Homo sapiens: one gene and its partners. The protein of the gene in region 1 purifies or fractionates together with the protein of each later gene. This does not show direct contact. Each region holds a gene or a part of one and is shown on either strand. Other genes may lie near its edges.

The links. The genes of interacting proteins can lie anywhere in the genome.
Region 2: the proteins of OXCT2 (region 1) and BCKDHA purify together in Homo sapiens (affinity purification with mass spectrometry; 2 studies listed by BioGRID and IntAct, with this or other methods). This does not show direct contact.
Region 3: the proteins of OXCT2 (region 1) and MCCC1 purify together in Homo sapiens (affinity purification with mass spectrometry; 3 studies listed by BioGRID and IntAct, with this or other methods). This does not show direct contact.

Annotation. Positions count from the first base shown.
Region 1 is NC_000001.11:39,768,748-39,776,844, forward strand, and holds OXCT2 (succinyl-CoA:3-ketoacid coenzyme A transferase 2, mitochondrial precursor), read right to left. Parts: upstream 2,602-8,097; 5' UTR 2,509-2,601; coding exon 955-2,508; 3' UTR 776-954; downstream 1-775. Other genes in the region: BMP8B (bone morphogenetic protein 8B), read right to left, coding at 5,561-5,709, 6,102-6,291. UniProt on the Homo sapiens protein: Key enzyme for ketone body catabolism. Transfers the CoA moiety from succinate to acetoacetate. Formation of the enzyme-CoA intermediate proceeds via an unstable anhydride species formed between the carboxylate groups of the enzyme and substrate.
Region 2 is NC_000019.10:41,421,402-41,426,242, reverse strand, and holds the end of BCKDHA (2-oxoisovalerate dehydrogenase subunit alpha, mitochondrial isoform 1 precursor), read right to left. Parts: intron 4,080-4,841; coding exon 3,873-4,079; intron 3,615-3,872; coding exon 3,473-3,614; intron 3,246-3,472; coding exon 3,074-3,245; intron 1,806-3,073; coding exon 1,635-1,805; 3' UTR 1,241-1,634; downstream 1-1,240. Other genes in the region: B3GNT8 (UDP-GlcNAc:betaGal beta-1,3-N-acetylglucosaminyltransferase 8), read left to right, coding at 1-658. UniProt on the Homo sapiens protein: Together with BCKDHB forms the heterotetrameric E1 subunit of the mitochondrial branched-chain alpha-ketoacid dehydrogenase (BCKD) complex.
Region 3 is NC_000003.12:183,067,757-183,075,912, forward strand, and holds part of MCCC1 (methylcrotonoyl-CoA carboxylase subunit alpha, mitochondrial isoform 1 precursor), read right to left. Parts: intron 4,732-8,156; coding exon 4,610-4,731; intron 3,602-4,609; coding exon 3,454-3,601; intron 3,365-3,453; coding exon 3,243-3,364; intron 1-3,242.

The sequences.
Region 1 (8,097 bases):
CTACTTGAGAGGCTGAGACATGAGAATTGCTTGAACCCAGGAAGCAGGGGTTGCAGTGAGCTGAGACTGGACCACTGTACTCTAGCCTAGGTAACAGAGCGAGATTCTGTCTAAAAAAGAAAAAAAATTACAGTAAGCTAAGGTTAATTGGCCCAACTCAGTGGCTCATGTCTGTAATCCCAGCACTTTGGGAGGCTGAGGCAAGTGGATCGCTTGAGCTCAAGTGTCCAAGACCAGCCTGGGCAACATGGTGAAACTCCATTTCTATAAATAAATTTAAAAAATAAAAAAAAATAAGCAGGCATTGTGATGTGCGCCTGTAGTCCCAGCTACTCAGGAGGCTGAATTAGGATTGCTTGAGCCCAGGAGGCAGAGGTTGCAGTGAGATCACTGCATTCCATTGCATTCCAGCCTGAGCGACAGAGCCAGACCCTGCCTCAAAAAAAAGAAAAAAGAAAGAGAAGGAAAAAGAAAAAACAAGCTCGTGAAGATAGCATGTCTTCCAATCACAAACTCACATCTTTGCTCGCCTATTTCTCACTGCAGTAGTAAAATGTCCCTTCAGGTGTACTCTGGGTTGAGTGATTTTCTCCCTCGTCAGTTTTTATCTCCATTTCATGGTTCAAGTACGAGGGAGGCGCTTGAATCAAATCTTGCTGTGAATGCACTGAGCTGTGCACGCTCTGTGTAAACATCACAGAGCAAAGCGGACATCCATTCCTCACCACTGCAGACCTGCGCCTTGCAGTGCTCGAGAAACACAGTGAGGAACTGATCTGTTTTCCTGTTGTTTTTAATTAAAGTCGCAGCTCTCTAGAGGAGCACTGTCCACCTAGGGAGGAAAGTAGGAGGCCAGTAGCAAACCCCTCCCAGAGCTGGGGACATGTATTCCCCTGGGGAACCCGGTGGCACCCGCCCTGAGGAGCGCACCACCCCGCCCAGATCCAGGTCCCGTCAGGGTGCCACCTGCTGCATGGGCCTGAGGTTCGGGGACACAGCAAAGGCACACCCCGTGCTCTTTTTGATGTCGTCCACCGTCAGGCCCTCCCAGAGCTCCCTCAGCGTCAGCTCTTTCTTCCTGTGCACGTCAAACACGGCCTTCTCGGTGATGATGCGGTCCACGCACCGCTTCCCGGTCAGCGGCATGGTGCATTTCTCCATGATCTTGGGGGTGTTGTCCTTTGTGCAGTGCTGCATGGTGACCACCACTCTGGTCTTCTGACTGGACACCAAGTCCATGGCACCGCCCATGCCTTTCACCTTCTTGCCAGGGATCATCCAGTTCGCCAGGTCGCCGTATTTGGAAACCTGCATGGCTCCAAGCATGGTTAGTTGGATGTGTCCCCCTCGGATCATGGCGAAGGAGTCGTCGCTGGCGAAGAAGCAGCCCCCGGGAAGCACCGTGACCGTCTGCTTGCCTGCATTGATGAGGTCGGCATCCACCTCATCTTCCGTGGGAAACGGGCCCAGGCCCAGGATCCCGTTCTCACTGTGAAGATGGACAGTCATGCTGGGACTGATGAAGTTGCTGGCCAGCAGGGGGATGCCTATGCCCAGATTGGCGTACATGCCGTCCTCAAATTCCAGAGCTGCGCGTCTGATGATGCGCGTCCTGGCGTCCTCTTCCTTTCCAGCGTCTCCATCTTCCTCTTTCAGGATCGTTAAGCGCTCAATTCGTTTCTCGTATTTCTGCCCCTTTATCACGCGATCTACATAAATGTTAGGAACGTGGATGTCTTCTGGGGGGAAAGCCCCCACCTCCACGATCTCTTCCACCTCCACCGCCGTGACGTCTGCAGCTTTGCACATGGGCACGTTGAAATTGCGGGCGCTTCTCCTGAAGACCACGTTTCCTGCCCGGTCGGCCTTCCACCCTTTCACCAGGGCGAAGTCTGCCCGGATGGCGCGCTCCAAAAGGAAGTGGTCGCCGTTGAACTCCCTCACCTCTCGGGGCTGGCTCATGAGCGCCAGGTGGCCGTCCGGGGTGTAGCGGATGGGGGCGCCCCCTTCCTGGACCAGGGTCCCGTAGCCCGTGGGGGTGTAGAAGGCGGGCACCCCGGCGCCCCCCGCGCGGATGCGCTCGGCCAGGGTGCCCTGGGGCGTGAGCTCCAGCTCCAGCTCTCCTGCCAGGTACTGGCTCTCGCACAGGGTGTTCTCGCCCACGTAGGAACAGACGATGCGACGGACCTGCCTGGCGGCCAGCAGGAGGCCCAGGCCGAAGTCCTCCACGCCCACGTTGCTGCTGACCACCTGCAGGTCTTTCACGCGGGTCCTGAGCAGCGCGGCGATCAGGTTCTCGGGGATCCCGCAGAGCCCGAAGCCCCCGATCATGACGGTCGCCCCGTCAGAGATGTCCTTCACCATCTCCACCGGGTCCGCGTAGAACTTGGCACGGAGCCGGGGACTGGTGGCAAAGCAGCGGGCGCAGCCCTGGGACAGCGCGAGCCCTGAGCCGCCGGCGGGGACCCCGCGCCCGAGCACTGACGCCAGGAGCCGCAGCGCCGCCATAGTCGGCCCGGGTCGGAGGCCAGGACAGGTGGTGTGAGCCCTGCGTGCGCCTCGGGCCGCGCGTCACAGAGCAGGGCGGGCGCCCGCGCCCTGACGCACTCCCTCCCAGCAGGTCTCCCCGGCCAGGCGCAGGCTCTAGGCTAGGCCCGCGACCCGCAACAGGGAGGGGGCCGGCTCCGCCCTGGGCTGGGGGCCCCCGAGTCAGTCCTCCGTGTCCAGCGCACAGGCCCGGGCGCAGGACAGAGCTGAGGTCAGGCTCCGCGAGAAGGGCACAGGCTAGGTCCCCTCCTGCCCCAGTGGAGCCTCAGACACAAACTCCAACCACCCCGCCCAAGCTTCCCCCCAGCTTCCCCAGCTCATTAAAGACACCAAGTGTCCAATGAGCAGGCGCCGCTGGGTGACACCGACGCTCATGAACACCTTCACTGGGCATCACTCTGTGCCAAGCACCCTCCTTTAATCCTGTGACAACCCGGAGAGTGAGTGCCTGCCCCACTACAGCCTCCCAGAGCTCAGGTTCACCCCTCACTGCGACAGTGGGGACAGTATCCCTCACCTCCATCAGGAAGGGTCCCTGCTCTGAAGAGGCCCCCCGTCTTGTCCTCTGCATCCCCCCGCCCTCTCCACCTCCCCCACTCCAGCTCCCTGCTCCAACTTGTGCGGAATTTTGCAGTTTTCTTCCCTCTGCACAGAATCACTGCATCACCACAGCAGCGTGCAGGCGTCTCCTCACCTGGAAAGGACCTGCCTTGTCCCGGGTTCTCTCCAGCCCCAGCCCATGTCTCTGCTCCCCTTCCCCAGCAAAGGTTCTGGAAAGAGCTGTCTCCTGCCTCCACTGCCTGTCTCCCTCCACCTCCTCAGTCAGACCCACACTCCACGGATATTTAGGTCATCAACAACCTCTGTGATGGCAAAACCCTTGGTCACTTCTCTGTTCTTGCCTTCAGTGCCCACAGCAGGACACAAATGACAAACCCTTGCTTCTGGAAACACTTTACTCTGGCGTCTAGATCACCTCATCCTCCAGGTGTCCTGCTCCCTCCCTGGCTGGTCTCTGTGGGCTCTCTGTGGCCCCTCCTTGTGAGGTCTCTGGATGTTGGAGGTCCCAGGGCTCTGGGCCAGGCCCTCTTTCTTCTCCATCACTACCCTCCTTCCCTAGATGACCTGGTCCCATCCCATGCTTTAAATCCACTTACATGCCAGCACCTCCCTCGCCTGGGTCTTCACACTCACCGGTCCCTGTAATGGCATTTCCATGAGGACCAGTGATCTCAGTAACATCCCAGGGGGGTCAGTAATATTCCAGCCAAAAGAGAACCCTTGGCCACCCACCTCAAACCTGCCCTTCATCTATCTTTTCCCCAAAAAGAAAAATCTATTGAAAAAAATCCACTGGCTCCAACCACACATCATTCAGGCTTCCTCCTGTTCCCTCACCTCCTCGCCAGCTATAAGCATGTCCTGACACTGAAATCGACTCATCTTTCTCCATCTCCACTGCTACCAACAAGTCGCTCACAGCGCCCACCTGGACCACTGTGGGGCCCCCACACGTCTCTCTGACTTCACTCTTGTCCATCTCAGTCTGCTCTCTCCACTGAAGTCAGGGGGTTCTTTATTTTATGCATATATTAAGTTTTAATTTTACAACAGTTGATAGTTACATAAAACTTTGTAAAGATAGTACAGAGGCTAAGGTGGGAGGATCGCTCGCGCCCAGGAGTTGGAGGTTACCGTCAGCTGTGATTGCGCCACTGCACTCCAGCCTGAGCAACAGAGCCAAACCCTGTCTCAAAGAAAAAAAAACTACACAAGGAGTTCCCATACACCTGGACCCAGTTTCCTCTGGGAAATGCTAATATTTTACACTAGCAGGGTACCTTTCTCATAACTAATGAACCAATACTGATACCTTATTATTAAGTAAACACCATGATCGATCTGGATTTCATAACTTCTCCCTAATGACCTTTTGCTGGTCCAGGACTCAACCCAGGACCCCACATGCACTGAGCTGGTCTTCTTAGGTGCCTCTGGGCTCCTCCAATTTCCCAACCTTCCCTTTTTTTTGATGAGCTTGGCGGTTTTGAGAAGCGCTTGTCAGGTATTCTGCGGAAAGCCCTTCTCTTTGGGTTTGTTTGACGGTTTTCTCGTGGCTGGACTGGGGTTTTGGGTTCACGGAGGGGGCCCTCTGAGGCTCAGTGGCCTTCTCCTTCCCTTTCACCCAGGGCACATGCTAGCACCGTGCCGGTCACTGCAGTGAGCCTTCCTCACCTGGCTGAGGCGCTGCGCGTCAGGTCCCCCACGCCCTGTCCACACCGCACTTTCGGGAAGCAAGTCACTGGGTGCAGCCCACGGAAGGGGTGGGGAGCTCTGCTCCACCCCGAGAGGGGGGCATCTCAGAGGGTTCTCTTTTAAAACCTGAATCAGATCCTGTCGTCCTCCACTGCTAGTAAATAAAATAAATGACGCTAAGAACCCCAGCACCTGGCCCTGGTTTACTCTGACTCAGAATGGCCCCTGGGTCCCCCGCCCTCACCGCTGCTCCATGGCGCCCCCTTGCCGGGCCTCAAACACACCCATCTCGTGCCCACTTTGGCCTCTGTATTCCTACTGCCTGGCATAAAAGAGGCTCTCCCCAGTGTCACCTGTGGAATGAACAAGGGCGTGAATCCCCATCCTGCGGAAGAGAAGACGGGGTCTGGAAAGGTAAGTCCCAGCCAAGGTCACTGAGGCAGGGCACTGCCAAGCTGGGCTTCAAACCCAGCCTCCTGGCCTCAGTGCCTGAGGGTACAGCCACTTCCCCTCCTTCCCTTCCCAGGACAGAAACTCCCAAGGTGGAGGCTGCTCCGTGGGAAGAGCCGCCTGCTTCCTGGGAAGCAGAGGGAGAGGAGGGAGCACCCCCACTAGGCCAGACCTCGTGCCCTGGACCTCAGTGACCCTTGCAGCGGGCACAGCTGGTGAGGCCGGGCACCCAGGGCCACAGGAAGCCACTACCGCTGCCTGTGCTGGCACAGAGAAGCCCCAGGGGCTGCAGAGCCCCCAGCCTCACCGTCCTCAGTCTCCACATAGAGGCGGAGTCCCAGGTCCTTGTGACGCTTCAGCAACCAGCAGTCACTGGCTGCTGTGACATCCAGCACCAGCCAGCCCTCGTCTCCAGCTCGGAGCGTCTGAAGATCCAAAAAGAACAAGTCAGACTCCCTGTGGACATGAAAGAACAATTAACCGGCGGCCGGCACAGCTGCCTCCGTGTCTCCAGGGCCCGCTGGGGGCTGTCACCGGAGTGTCTCCCACCTGACTCTGGCTGCGCCCCTTCTGAGCCTCATCTCATTGCCTCAGCCCACAGAGGTGTACACATGGGGAAACTGAGTCTCAGTGACCTGTCCAAGTCCCCACAGCCAGGATGGCAGGGCAGGGACTTGAAGTCAGGATTGTCACTGGGGCTCTTCCCACAGTGCAGGGGCCTCGGGCCAAGCATCCTTCCCATCTTTGAGGCTCTCTTTCAGCCCACCACGACTCCCTGCTGGGCTGCCTTGACCATGAGACTGTGAGGTGGGGGGTTAGGTGGGGCACCCGGGCCAAGGGGAAGGCACCTGTTGGACTGCTCCTGGACCACCTGGAACATGCTGACGTGGAGGGTCCTGTTGAGCAGGTGGATGCTGGGCACCTTGTAAATCCGGAACTCCGCAGCTGTGACCGCCTCCCCAGCCGGGATCTGGGTCAGGTCAAAGCGGAACTCCTTCCAATGGGGCTCCTGGTGGCCCAGGGCACGGTCTCGCTCCACTAGAAGACAAAGCAGCGCTGGGCTGGCACTCAGAATGGCTCGGGCTCTGGAGGGGGCAGAGCTGGTGTGAGCCACCGCCCCCAGCCACCCACCACTCAAGGTGGAGCGGACCCAGGGAGGCCTGGGTGGGGCCGGCTTCATTTAGTGCAAACGTTTGTTCCAGGCTTGGTCCCGGGGTGTAGACAGGGCCAAGAGGCCCTGCAGCCAGGCTCACCCTGAGCCCCGCAGCTGGCTGGTGCTCAGCAGGCCCCAGGCTCCAAACCCTGAACTCCCGTTGCGCCCCCTTCTCGGCCCGGCTGGTCCTGGGACTCAGAGATGAGACAGAGGAGGGAGCCTCCTCTGGGAACTTCCAGGCTAAAGGGAAGATGGACATTGGACCCAAGGCAGAAAAGGGCCCCAGCCCTGCAGGGAAACCTGGTAGACAGGAACATAACCGACATAACTGACGGCATCTCAGGGGACACAAGGCATCCAGAGCCTGCCCACTGCCTGGATGGGAGGTGCGGCAGGGGAGGGCTCAGGGCTGACAGCTGAGCTGGGCTGAGGCATGAGTGCGAATCTGCCATGGTGTCAGGGAGACGGGCCCTGCAGGGGCCGGCCAGCCAAGGCAGAGGGCCAGAGCAGAGGGGTCTGAGGGCAGGGCAGGGAAAGCAAGCACCAGGAAACAGCAGAGGGCAGGAGACCCACGTTTCCTTTCTGGAACAAGCTGGAAGAGGAAGGAGGGAAACGTGGAAAGGAACAAGAAAAACCAGGGCAGGAGTGACAACTCCCAGAGAGGCCAGTCAGGTGCTGGGGAAGTCGGAGGGTCTCACTGGGTGATGGGATCTGAGCAGGTGGCATCTGAACTGGCTTTGAAGGGTGGGATGGGTCTTGGTAGGTGGAGAAGGTGGCAGGGAGGGTGCTCTAGGGAGAGGGGACCTCGCATGCACAGGGTGGAGGCGCCCACAGGTCAGCGATGTTGGGGACGGCACATGAGCTCTGCTGCGGCCTGCCTGCTGAGGGTGCGAATCCCGGGCCAGGAGCCTGGGCTGCGCCTCTGGCCAGTGGGAAGCACAGGGGACGGGGGCAGCAGGGAGGCGGCGTGGGTGGAGGGGAATTAGAAGACACAGTGGAGGTGAGGGTAGAGGCCAGGCTGGAAGTGAGATGGGCAGCAGGGCCCCGTGGCAGGGGCTGGCCTGCCAATCAAACAAAGGCTGTAGTTGCGGAATAAAGCCCACATTTCCCCAGGTGTCCGGAAATACCCAGGACGCTATATTTAGGGCAGTCTCACTTTAGCCTCCCATCCGTTTCAAACTCTAGAAATCTGTGTTTCCAGAAAGCAGGGGTGGGAGCCGCCCAGTGCCTTCCCCAAAACCCAGCACTGAGATTTCAATGATATGTTTGTGAGTCTTTTTAAAAATTCTCTGTGGTTACTGGGCTCAGTGACCACGGTCAGGTTTGTAAAAGCACCAGGCTGTGCGGGCCGAGGCGGATGTGGGGAGCACTTCCTGTCCTCGTGGTGGGGACCTGGTCCGGCCATGGGCAGGCGAACAGCTGTGCGGGGCAGGGGATGGGGCCAGACGTGTGTGGGCAGGAGGAGGTGGCCGCTCATCCCAGCCCAGGGCGGAGAAGGAAAGAACGTGCCTTGTCCCACAGCACCCAAGGGTGTCTTTTGAAGTCTTACTTTTTGGTCAGAAATAATACTTTGAATTAAGTTTTTCTAAATAAATGTATTCTTTCACTCATCTAATAAGATCATCATGTTTAATTTAGAAATAAATTTATTCAGTTCTTACTGTGTGTACAACACTGTTCTGGGCAATACA
Region 2 (4,841 bases), on another chromosome or scaffold:
GCTGCTCTTCCTGCTAGGGTCTCCGGTGGGTGAGGCGGGGCCTGACCTAGACTCACTAGTGGCCTGGGAGAGCCGTCGCTACAGTGACCTGCTGCTCTGGGACTTCCTCGACGTCCCATTCAACCAGACGCTCAAAGACCTGCTGCTGCTGGCCTGGCTGGGCCGCCACTGCCCCACCGTGAGTTTTGTCTTGCGAGCTCAGGACGATGCCTTTGTACACACCCCTGCCCTGCTGGCTCACCTGCGGGCCCTGCCACCTGCCTCGGCCCGAAGCCTCTACCTGGGTGAGGTCTTTACCCAGGCCATGCCTCTCCGGAAGCCAGGAGGACCCTTCTATGTGCCCGAGTCCTTCTTCGAAGGTGGCTACCCAGCCTATGCAAGCGGGGGTGGCTACGTCATTGCCGGGCGCCTGGCACCCTGGCTGCTGCGGGCGGCAGCCCGTGTGGCACCCTTCCCCTTTGAGGACGTCTACACTGGCCTTTGCATCCGAGCCCTGGGCCTGGTGCCCCAGGCCCACCCAGGCTTCCTCACAGCCTGGCCAGCAGACCGCACTGCGGACCACTGTGCTTTCCGCAACCTGCTGCTGGTACGGCCCCTGGGCCCCCAGGCCAGCATTCGGCTCTGGAAACAACTGCAAGACCCAAGGCTCCAGTGCTGACTCTCATTGGGGAGGGCGGAGGTGCTGACCTGGCCTGGGCCTCTGGGGCCGGCCCCTGGCTCAGCCCCTCCTTCCAGGTCTTGATGGGAGGGAGGAGGGCCCAGAAGCTGGACAACTTAAGCCACTCCTTGGCCTCCCCCAGCCAGGGGCCTGGGCAGGAAAGATGGGGTGGTGGACTGTTTTTGCCTACTTTTTGTTTTTGAAAAACATGCACTCCCCACTCTGAGGCCTGGGGTTGTTTTTGCATCTGTGGGGCCCTGGAGTGGTGGGGAGCAGGGCTTGGCCACACCCTGACCTTCATCCTGGACGCTCCCCTGCACCCCTGCTGGGCAGGGCTAGCTCCACTGGGCTCCCCATCACTCTGCTGGACAGCAGGCTTCTCCCATTCTGTGAGAGAGCAGGAGACCATCTCTGGAGGACCCCCCCACCCCCATCCTGTCTGCTGAAGTTAACCTTCCAGCTTGCGCAAGCTTCCGGGGGAAGTAGGTATCTCAAGAGCCTTGACCTTATTTATCTAAGGTGGAGAAGCTGGGGGTGGCCTCAAATCACCCCCAAACTCCAGGAAACAAAGACCAGAGGTGGTAGAGAGCCAGGCGCAGAGATGCAGTTTATTCGTGACCTCTGCTGGCCACTCGCACCTGCGCAAGTTCCACAGGCTGACCTGCCATGTCCACCCCATGCCCAGAGGGGCTTCTAGTCCTGAATGTGCCCTCACCCAGCCCCTGGGAGAAGGCACTGTAACAACAGGTGAAGAGGGGGCTGACGGAGCCTCAGCAACTGCTGCAGATGCTGTCCCCTGACAATGTAACAGCCGGGAGGAGCAGGGGTGAAGAGTGGCAGCCGCCCTGGCCGCTGAGTATTTTAGAGGGAGCTGACTGGGGAAGACAGTGGTGTGCTGTCAGGTCCCCCTGCTCCCCTTAGAGTGGGGCTACCTCTCGGGGTAGCTGAGGATGGGTGGGGGTGGGCTGAGCAGGTCTCACTTATCGAAGTGATCCAGTGGGTAGTGCTCCCCGTAGGTCTGCAGGTGGCGGGCCAGAGACTCCTGCTGCTTGCGGAGCTGGGCGGGCATCTCCTGATACACGTCTGAGAAGAGTAGGTTGGGGTTGGGTTTGGGCTTCCGCTCGGCCTGCTCAAAGGCCTCCATCACCTGTGGGGACATGGGGCAGTGGGCAGGCTAGCCGGCCTCCCATGCAGGACCCTGCTTCCTCCTGCGGGGCCTTGGCAAGGAATTAACCACTCCAAGCCTTTGTGTTCCCACCTCGACAATGGAAATGATTATCCTAGCAGAAGTGTAATGAAAACCCTCAAATCCCAGCAGGGATCAGGTGCTATCCAAGTGTGTGGAATCATTTAAGGCTTTCAGCAGCCCTAAGAGGTAGACAGCTAAGCAATGAGGAAACTGAGGCACAGAGAAGGGCAGGGACAGGACACACGGTGCTGCCCTATGCCGGGTGCTGCCCTCACCACTGGGCTGCACGGGCCCTGGGTCCTAATGACCGGGCCAGGGAGGGTGGCACACTGACTCTGGGCAGGGCATGTACACTCCACCACGGTTTGCCACCTAATCCTCAAACCAGCTTTTTTTTTTTTTTAAGAGATAGTCTTGCTCTGTTGCCCAGGCTGGAGTGCAGTGGCGCCATCTCCAATCACTGCAAGTTCCACCTCCCGGGTTCAAGCGATTCTTCTGCCTCACCTTCCTGAGTAGCTGGGACTACAGGCACGCACCACCACGCCTGGCTAATTTTTTTTTTTGAGATGGAGTCTTGCTCTCGTTGCCCAGGCTGGAGTGCAATGGTACGATCTCAGCTCACTGCAACCTCTACCTCCCAGGTTCAAGCAATTCTCCTGCCTCGGCCTCCCAAGTAGCTGGGATTACAGGCACCCGGCACCATGCCCGGCTAATTTTTGTATTTTTATTAGAGACGAGGTTTCACCATGTTGGCCAGGCTGGTCTCAAACTCCCGACCTCAGGTGATCTGTCCGCCTTGGCCTCCCAAAGTGCTGGGATTACAGGCGTGAGCCACTGCGCCCAGCCCTAATTTTTGTATTTTTAGTAGAGACAGGGCTTGACCATGTTTGGCCAGGCTGTTCTCAAGCTCCTGACCTCAAGTGATCTGCCACCTCGGCCTCCCAAAGTGCTGGGATTACAGGTGTGAGCCACCATGCCCAGTCTCAAACCAGTTTCTGAAATGGGCACCACCAGCATCCCCTTTCAAAGACAAGGAAGTGGAGGGCAACATGCCAAGGACACAGAGCCAGGACACACATGGCCCCAGCAGCCTGGCTCCACAGGCCACATCTGAGACATCACTGGGGTTATCCCTGAGCCTCCCAGTTCGGTGTTCCACAAATCCTTCCCAAGCTCTGCAGGCCGCAGCAGCCCCCAGCACACCCTCCCGGGCGGGGCACCCTCACCTTCCTGCGGGACTGCTTCCTCCAGGCCTTCTCCTGCTCCTCATCCCACCAGCCTTGGCTCAGCAGATAGTGCCGCAGCCGGGAGATGGGGTGGTCCTGTTTATCCCAGTAATTGACCTCATCCACCGAGCGGTACGCTGAACTGTCGTCACTGGTGCTGTGGTGCCCGATCCTGCACAGGGGCAAGGGGCCCCAGGTCAGTGTGGGCTCCCTGGAGTGGGGGTCAGGAGGGAGGATGGGGGATGAACTAGGGAAGGAGGAGTGGAAACGGAATAAAGGCAAGGGGGAGATGCAACATCAGGTGATAAGGCCATGTTTTGGAGACAGTGATCGATATGAGGAAGATGCTACGGTGGCTGTCAGTGCTGTGGGGGTGCTGACGGGGGGAGCGGCAGGCACCTGTAGGTCATGGCCTCGATGAGGAAGGGCTGGTTCTCTGCCACAGCCCGCCGTCGGGCCTCCTTTGTGGCGTTGTATACGGCAAACACATCATTACCATCCACGCGGATTGACATGATGCCATACCCGGGGCCTCGTGCTGCTGTGGGGACACAGAGAAGGCAGGTCAGGCCAGGGCTGAGATAAGGAACATGCACGAGGCCAAGGGGACGAGCAGGGAGAGGACAGAGAGCAAGGCTGAGTGCTCAGGACCTCAACTCCTGTGGCTGACCAAGTGCCAGACGCCACAGGACACAGGACGAGAACCAGGAAGGAGGGTAGGGGTGGCAGGAAGGTGGCAGGATTGGGGAGGGAAGGAGATGATCCCAGCGGGGTGGGGAGCAGCCAGCAGAGCCCATACCAATGCCATCGCCGCGATACTGCTCAGAGGTGGGCGTGGAGATGGCGTAGCCATTGTTCCGGCAGAAGAAGATGATGGGGCACTCAAGTGTGGCAGCGAAGTTGAAGCCGGCATGGGCGTCCCCCTCACTGGCTGCCCCCTCGCCGAAGTAACAGATGACGACCCTGTTGGCATTGGCCCGCTTGGCTGCGTACGCCGCCCCCACCGCTGCAGGGGATGAGAGGGTGGTGAGCAGGGGCGGAGACTCACATGCACTCACACTCATTCACACTCACATGACCCACGGCTCAAGCGTGGCTCAGGCCAGCAGTCACCAGGCTTCAAGGGGAAAGGAAACACCTCAGCTCCTGATGCCCCCCAGCATCTGCCCACCCAGGTCTCCTCTTGCTCAGCTGAAAGCAACTCCACCCTTCCAACTGCTCAGGCTGAAGAGTCCAGTATCATCTCCAAGCCAAACTTCCCGCCATTCTCCACATCTACTCCACCTTCAGAACCTAACCCCTCTTACCTCCTCCTCTGCACCACCCTGGTCAAGCCCAAGTTACTGAGCAGCCTCCTTACTAGCCCTTCACACACTGCCCAATCCCTTATCCACAGGGCAGCCCGCGGATTCCATGAAGAGGTGAGCCAGGCCAAGGAAGAGCAGACTCCTCCCCACCCACGGCTCCTGTCCCACTTTGAGTAAAAGTCGACATCCCTGCAACAGGCAAAGGCCTTGAGGCCCCACCCAACCTGCACCATCTGCACCCCCACCCACCACCTCCTGGACTTTACCTCCAACCACCCCACACCTGCTCACCCTACACCCGCTCACTCCACACCTGCTCACTCCACACCTGCCCCTCTGGGCTCCTCCCAGCTCCTCAAACACGCCAGGCTCACACCTGCCTCAAGACACCACACAGCTCCCCCCTCACATCCTCTGGTCCATACTTCAGTGTCACTCCAGTGACGGACCCCAGCCACCCC
Region 3 (8,156 bases), on another chromosome or scaffold:
TTGCCCAGTTAGTGGAAAGCCTTCTAACTTAGTTAACTTGGGATAATCTTGCTTACTTTGCTCTACTGTTGTGGAATATATTACTGTTATACTCTTTGTGTAGAAATGCAGGATAAGCTTACCAAATTTTTTTTTAAAAACACATAGTAATCTTCCAGATATCACCTTTTGTTGGAACTCATGAGTTATGAGTGGCCCTCAACATACCGATGCTTTCTAACTAAGCTCCTCTCTCTATACTGAACACAAGAGATCCTAATAGTTAGGCAGGAATATCATCACCCCATTCAGCCTGAAGAAGTTACAGAAGATGGATCTTTGTCCCTCTGCAACCCTTAGGATTAAGCGTGCTCTTACAAAAGGGAAAAGGGAAATGTCAGAGGCATTTGAACCAGAGCAACTCCCATCTTGAATAGGAGCTGGGTAAAATAAGGCTAAGACCTGCTGGGCTGCATTCCCAGTAGCAAGTTAAGGCATTTTTAATCACAAGAAGAGATAGAAGGTCAGCAAAAGATACAGGTCATACGGACCTTGCAGATAAAACAGGTTGCAGTAAAGACGTTGGCTAAATCCCACTAAAACCAAGATGGTAACAACAGTGACCTCTGGTCGTCTTCACTGCTACACTCCCACCAGCACCATGACAGTTTGCAAATGCCATGGCAACGTCAGGAAGTTACCCTATATGGTCTAAAAAGGGGAGGCAAGAATACTCCACCCCTTGTTTAGCATATCATCAAGAAATAACCATAAAAATGGCAACCAGCAGCCCTTGGGGCTGCTCTGTCTATGGAGTAGCCATTCTTTATTCCTTTACTTTCTTAATAAACTTGCTTTCAATTAAAAAGAAGTTATTACTAGAAATACAGAATAGAAATAGAGTCACACAATGTGCCACACAATGACATTCCATCAATGCCAGACTGCATATAGGATGGTGATTTCATAAGATTATGATAGAGCTGAAAAATTCCTATCATTTAGTGACATAATAGCACAATACATTACCTTTCCTATGTTTTGAGATGTTTAGATACACAAATACTTACCATTGTGTTACAAATGCCTACAGTATTCAATACAGTAACGTTTGTACAGGTTTGTAGCTCAGGAGCAATAGGCTATACCATAGCTTAGGTGTGTAGTTGACTATACTATCTCAGTTTGTGTAAGGACACTCTATGATGTGTGCACAACAATGAAATTGCCTAACAATGCATTTCTCAGAATGTATCTCTGTCATTAAGCAACACATGACTGTATATAAGAATATTAATAATAATTAGGAGAATACAATTATGGGTTGTTTTCCATCTTCTGCATTTTCCAAAAATTTGTAATGTATTCATATTACTTCTATAGTTCAAAAAATATTACTGATGCCTATTACAAGGAAAGTAGTATGCCAGGCAATATATACAAAAAATAAAAATGTATATACTACCAGGTCTTTGATTCCCAGGGGCTTTCCAGCTATTGGGGGAATAAATTATAATGTGACGCAATGTATGGCTAACATTTCATAAGTAAAGAACTTACATATTCAAAAAATGCTGCAGGCATGGAGTTACATAATAACTCAAATAAGCTATTGATGTCTCTGAAATAAGTTACTGAAATAAGCTATTGATGTCTCCACAATTCTAACTTAAGAGCATGCTGATTTGGATGGCTAGCCTATTCTTTCTTGAAAGGAAGCCTTCAATGTACCTTAGAAATGCCCCCCCCTTTTTTTTTGCCTTAATTGAATTTCATTTACTATGCCATGCTCAGGACAGTTGTTTTATAGGGCCTGAAACAAAAAACAATTTGGGGGTCTTCTCTAAGGAGAAGAATACAAAACTGCAAATACAAAATTAGGTCAGGGTCTTGGAAGAGATTAATGTCAAAGAAGGGCCTGAAGTTTCAAGTCTGTTACCTTCAAGGTAAATCTCTTTCCAGTCATGGTTCCCAAATAAATTATTCTTTTCACTTGACTTACAGGTCACACACATATATATATAAAATTTAACAATTGTCATAAAAATCTATGAAATGAGAAACTTTATAATCAGCATCTTAAACAACAAACATGAAAATAAAATTCCAGAAAAAAAAATAGGGATTCACACTGCATTTGCTATAGTGGTACCCAGAGAAGTAGCTTAGTGCAGTGGCTTAGATATGAACTCTGGAGTCAAAGTGCCTGGGTTCAAATCTCAGCTTTACTACTTAACAGCTGAGTGACCTCAGAAAAGTAACACAACACAACCATTCTGTTGCTTAGTGTCCTCACCTGTAAAATGAAAACAGTACTTACCTAATGAGGTTGTTGTAAGAATTATATTAGAATTAGAAGGACAGCAAGATTATTTAGCATGTGTAAAATATTTAAAATCTGGCACATGGTAAGTGCAATGTAAGTGTTAGCTCCTATTAACAGCATATCACTTGTAATTCAATTTAGAAAATTACTTCCATTTCCTGAGCATCTCAACTGACAGAGTTCTATAAATATAGCTGAATTTATTACAATAATTTGCTAATATTGAAAAAAAACCCTAAATTTCATCAACAAGAAACATACTGAATGAATTAATGGTATATCAAGATCATAGAACCGCTAGGTCACCAACAAAAAGAATGAGGCTGATCTACAATTACTGACATGGAAAGATGTCTGTGATATAATATTAGTGTATAAGATTCTATTCACTGGCCGGGCACAGTGGCTCACGCCTGTAATCCCAGCACTTTGGGAGGCTGAGGCAGGTGGATCACGAGGTCAGGAGTTTGAGACCTGCCTGACCAACATGGGAAAACCCCATCTCTACTAAAAACACAAAAATTAGCCAGGCATGGTGGGGCATACCTGTAATTCCAGCTACTTAGGAGGCTGAGGCAGGACAATCGCTTGAACTCGGGAGGCAGAGGTTGCAATGAGCCGAGATCGTGCCACTGCACTCCAGCCTGGGCAACTGAATGAGAGACTCCGTCCAAAAAAAAAAAAAAATTCTATTCACTGTTCTTAGGTATGTATTTTGTTTGCTGTATGTATATGTATATAGGTTTCTATTCACATAGAAAATGGCTGGAAGAATGCATACCATCCTACAATCAGTGGTTACATCACAGGACAGAACTGGGAAACTTGTAATAATATACTTATATACTACTACAGTTTTATATTTTATAGAATGTGCATGCATTATTTTTATAATTTAATTTTTAAACTCTGAGTCAGAAAAATAAGGCCAACCCACCTCGGTGTGTCTACAAACTTCTCGATCAGCATAGCATCATCATTGAAAGACTTCTTAGCTTCTCTCCGTGCTGACTCTAACTGTTCTTGAAATTCTTGTTCTGATCTAACAATCCTCATTCCCTAAGAGAGAAAAGATGATTATGACTACAACATAAATAAAACAAAGAAGACAAGCCTGAATTGGCAAACACAAGCATGCACAATCTTACTTTTCCTCCTCCACCCCGGACGGCTTTAATCATGACAGGATAGCCAATTCTCCTGGCGTGTTCCTTCAGGCACTGGTCTGATTGGTCCTCACCATGATAACCCTCCACAACAGGTACTCCAGCAGCAGCCATTATGGATTTGGATGTGCTTTAGAGTGGGAAAGAAAACAACATGCCCCAAATTCTACAAATTATTTCATTCAAGACAAACATAAATATAGCCCAGTCTATAAATTACAATGGAACTCTTTAAAGAAAACATCGAGTCTGAGACGACAAAATAATACAAATTTAATATGTCTATTAGTTAGTTTCCCTCATTTCATGTGGTAGCTCATCTCACCCTATTTTTTAATCCCAAAATACTAATATATTGATTAGAAACATTAAGTATTTTCTGTAACTCAATAGAATTTCTCTATGTCACAGATAAATAACTTATGCCTATGACAACAGAAGGGTAGAATTAAAATATTATAGGTAAAACAAACTATTTCTTTTTTTTTTTTAGAGACAGGGTCTCACAATGTTGCCCATGCCAGAGTGCAGTGGTGCAATTATACTTCACTACAGCCTTAAACTTCTGAGCTCAAGTGATCCTTCTGCCTCAGCCTCCTAAGCAGCTGGGACTACAGGTGTGTGTCACCATACCCAGCTGAATTTTTTTTTTTTTTTTTGAGATGGGGTCTTACTCTGTCACCCAGACTGAAGTATGATGGTGTGATCACAGCTCACTGCAGCCTTGATCTCCTGGGCTCAAGCAATCCTCCCACCTCAGCCTCCCAAGATGCTGGACCCACAGGCACGTGCCACCATGCCTGGAATTTTTAAAAAATTTTGTAGAGACAGGGTCTCCCTGTGTTGCCCAGGCTGGTCTTAAACTTCTGGGCTCAAGTGATCCTCCCACCTTGGCCTCCCAAAGTGCTGGGATTACAGGTGTGAGCCACTGTGCCCAGGCCTGGCTGATTTAAAAAAAAGAATTTTGAGAGACAAGGTCTCACTAAGTTGCCCAGGCTGGTCTTGAATTCCTGGCCTCAAGCTATCCTCCTGCCTCAGTCTCCCAAAACACTGGTATTACAGGCATAGCCACATGCCTGGCCCAAACTATTTCAACTGACCTTCATACAGTTATATTTTAAAAGATATAAACTCATACCTCTTTATACCCATGTCTCTAATTGCAGATGGAGGAGGGCCTATAAAAATAATTCCTTCTTGCTTACAAAGTTCAGCAAATTCCATGTTTTCTGAGAGAAAACCGCATCCTGGATGGATAGCCTAGAAATGAGAAATAAAATAAAAAATTTACTCATCAGTGCTCAACTGGCAACACCTTAATGCAGGTGAAGCTGTCTTCCTCTGGGAGGCCTCTCCCTACACTGGTAATAGTATGGTCTCTATTAAACTCTGTTTCCAAAGAAATATCTGAAATATTCATATGAAAGCTCTGAAGGCTTACCTAAACCAGATGAATCTATATTTCTTTTTATTGTGATAATATATACATAGCAAAACACTGACCATTTTAGTTACTTGCAAGTATGTAATTCAGTGGCATTAAGTACACTCACAATGTTGGGCAACTGTCATCACCATCCATCCTCAGGATGTTTTAATCTCCAAACATAATTCTCCATTCCCTCCCTTTCCTTAGTCCCTAGTAACCAGGATTTTACTTTCTGTTTATGAATTTCTCTAGCCAAAGTACCTCATGTAAGTGGAAGCGTATAATAATTTGTCTGAGTTTGGCTTATTTCACCTAGCATAATGTTTTCAAGGTTCATTCATGTAACATGTATCAAAATTCCATTTGTTTTTAAGGTTGAATAATATCCAGTTTGTACACATTTTGTTTATCCATTAATCTCTTGATGGACATTGTGTTATTTCTACACATTGTGAATACTGCTGCTGTGAACAACAAGTATTGGTATACAAGTATCTGTTTTGAGTCCCTGCTTTAAATTCTTCTAGCTGTATACCAAAAGTGGAATTGCTGGATCATATGGTACAGAAGTTTCTATATACTTAAATTTAAAATAATATTGCAATTAGGGTAGAATGTCAAGAAGTAAAGGGCTTCAGAGTGGTAAGGGGAATTTGTCTATTCTGTCTCTGTGTAAAACTGGCCTAGAATTGAAATCATGGCATCCAAAAGCCCCAAACAGAACACTAGCTCAATAAATACCTCACTTATCTTCAGGTCATCAATGTCATCTTTCCAGAAAAAAAGCTAAGAAGCAAATGAAAGTCATGTATTAAAGTCTACAGGAGTGTCCCCTTATCCAAGATCCCTAGTGGATGCCTGAAACTATGAATACTACAGAACTGGACTGATACCAATTTGACCACGCTTCTGTTCATGTCTTCCAATCACAAATGTAATGCCTTTCCCATCTTAACTAAGTACTTGCCATGCCCTGTGGCCATAAGTTTTGCAGTTTGAGGTGCAACAGGAAAATGACATGAATTTGTTTTTCCTTCTTCACAATTTCACAGATAGAAACTTGGTCCTTACCAAGAACCAAGAAACCTCAACATACATATTTTTTTCTTTCCTTGAGAATTTTCACCTTTTCACTTAAAAGAAGCATTTCATGGCTTCTCTTTAGCATAAGTGAATTGCCACCATCATTGCTCTTGCATTTTGGGGCCATGATTTAAATAAAATAAGGGTGACTTGAACACAAGCATGGTGGTACCATGACAGTCAATTTGATAACCTAGATGGCTCCTGAGTGACTAACAGATGGGGAGTGGAGACAGCGTGGAGACACTGGACAAAGGGACGATTCACATCCTGGGAGGGACAAAGCAGACTGTGCAAGATCTCACTGTGTGACTCAGAATGGCGTGCAATTTGAAACTTATCAATTGTTGATTTCTGGAATTTTCCATTTAATATTTTCACACCATAGTAGACTGCAGGTAACTGAAACCACTCAAAGCAAAACCGTGGATAAAGGGGACAACTGTACGTGTACTTTCAGTGAAAAGGGCATCCCTCAGACTTCAGCCTAGTTACTTCCAGTGTACTCAGAATTTTAACAAACATACTTACTGGGATTTTAGCCCACAGAAGAGGAAATTCAGTAACTGAAGGACAGCAAGATTTCTAAAAGTAAACACGCTGACAGCAAAAAGGGAAGAAACAGAAGGAGGCAAAAGGCAGAGAAGACTTGGATGATTTAATGAGTGATGAAGCCACACCCTCTCCAACATCAGTAGCCCTGAGGGGATTTGTTCTTCTAAAATGTGAGCGAGTATTATAATTATGACCAAAACAATGTAAAAACACAAAGGTTCAGCCAATCCTGTTTCAAAATAGTTACACTCAAAGAACATTTCAAAATTAAAGGGGTAAGCTTCACATATCTGGGAAACTCATACGAATAGAAAAACCCACATCCTAGTGACAGGAAACAATGCAATGCCAGATACAGATAAAATGCTGGATACTCATATGTTGCAGCCAGTTTAGAGTTTTATATCTTTTAAACCAAAGTTCAATTTTATTTTATTAACTTTTATTTTAGGTTTGGGGTGCATGTGAAGATTACACAGGTGAATACATGTCACAGGGGTTTGTTGTACAGAGTTCGTCACCCAGGTATTAAGCCCAGTATTCAATAGTTATCTTTTCTGCTCCTCTCCCTCCCACCTTCCCCACTCAGGTAGACCCCAGTGTCTTTTGTTTCCTTCTTTGTGTTCTTAAGTTCTTATCATTCAGCTCCCACTTCTAAGTGAGAACATGCAGTATTTGGTTTTCTGTTCCTGTGGGAGTTTGCTAAGGATAATAGCTTCCAGCTCCATCCATGTTCCCGCAAAAGATGTGATCTTATGCTTTATTATGGCTGCATAGTATTCCGTGGTGTATATGTACCACCTTTTCTTCATCCAATCTGTCACTGATGGGCATTTAGGCTGATTCAATGACTTTGCTATTGTGAATGATGCAATGAACATACATGCACATGTGTCTTTATGGTAGAATAATTTATATTCCTCTGGGTATCAACCAGTAATGGGATTGCTGGGTTGAATGGCAGTTTTGCTTTTAGCTCTTTGAGGAATCACCCTGCTGCTTTCCACAATGGTTGAACTAATTTACACTCCTACCAACAGTGTATAAGCGTTCCCTTTTCTCCACAACCTCCTGACATCTGTTATTTTTTTGACTTCTTAGTAATAGCCATTCTGACTGGTGTGAGATGGTGTCTCATTGTGGTTTTGATTTGCGTTTCTCTAATGATCAGTGATATTGAGCTTTTTTTCATGTTTGTTGGTCACATGTATGTCTTCTTTTGAGAAGTGCCTGTTCATGTCCTTTGCCCACTTTTTTTTTTTTTGAGACAGAGTCTTGCTCTGTCACCCAGGCTAGAGTGCAGTGGCATGATCTCATCTCATTGCAACCTCTGCTTCCCAGGTTCACGCCATTCTCCTGCCTCAGCCTCCCAAGTAGCTGGGACTACAGGTGCCTGCCACCACGCCCTGCTAATCTTTTTGTATTTTTAGTAGAGACAGGGTTTCACCATGTTAGCCAGGATGGTCTCATCTCCTGACCGTGTGATCTGCCCGCCTCGGCCTCCCAAAGTGTTGGAATTACAGACGTGAGCCACTGTGCCCGGCTGTCCTTTGCCCACTTTTTAATGGGGTTGTTTTTCTCTTGCACATCTGTTTAAGTTCCTTATAGATGCTAGATA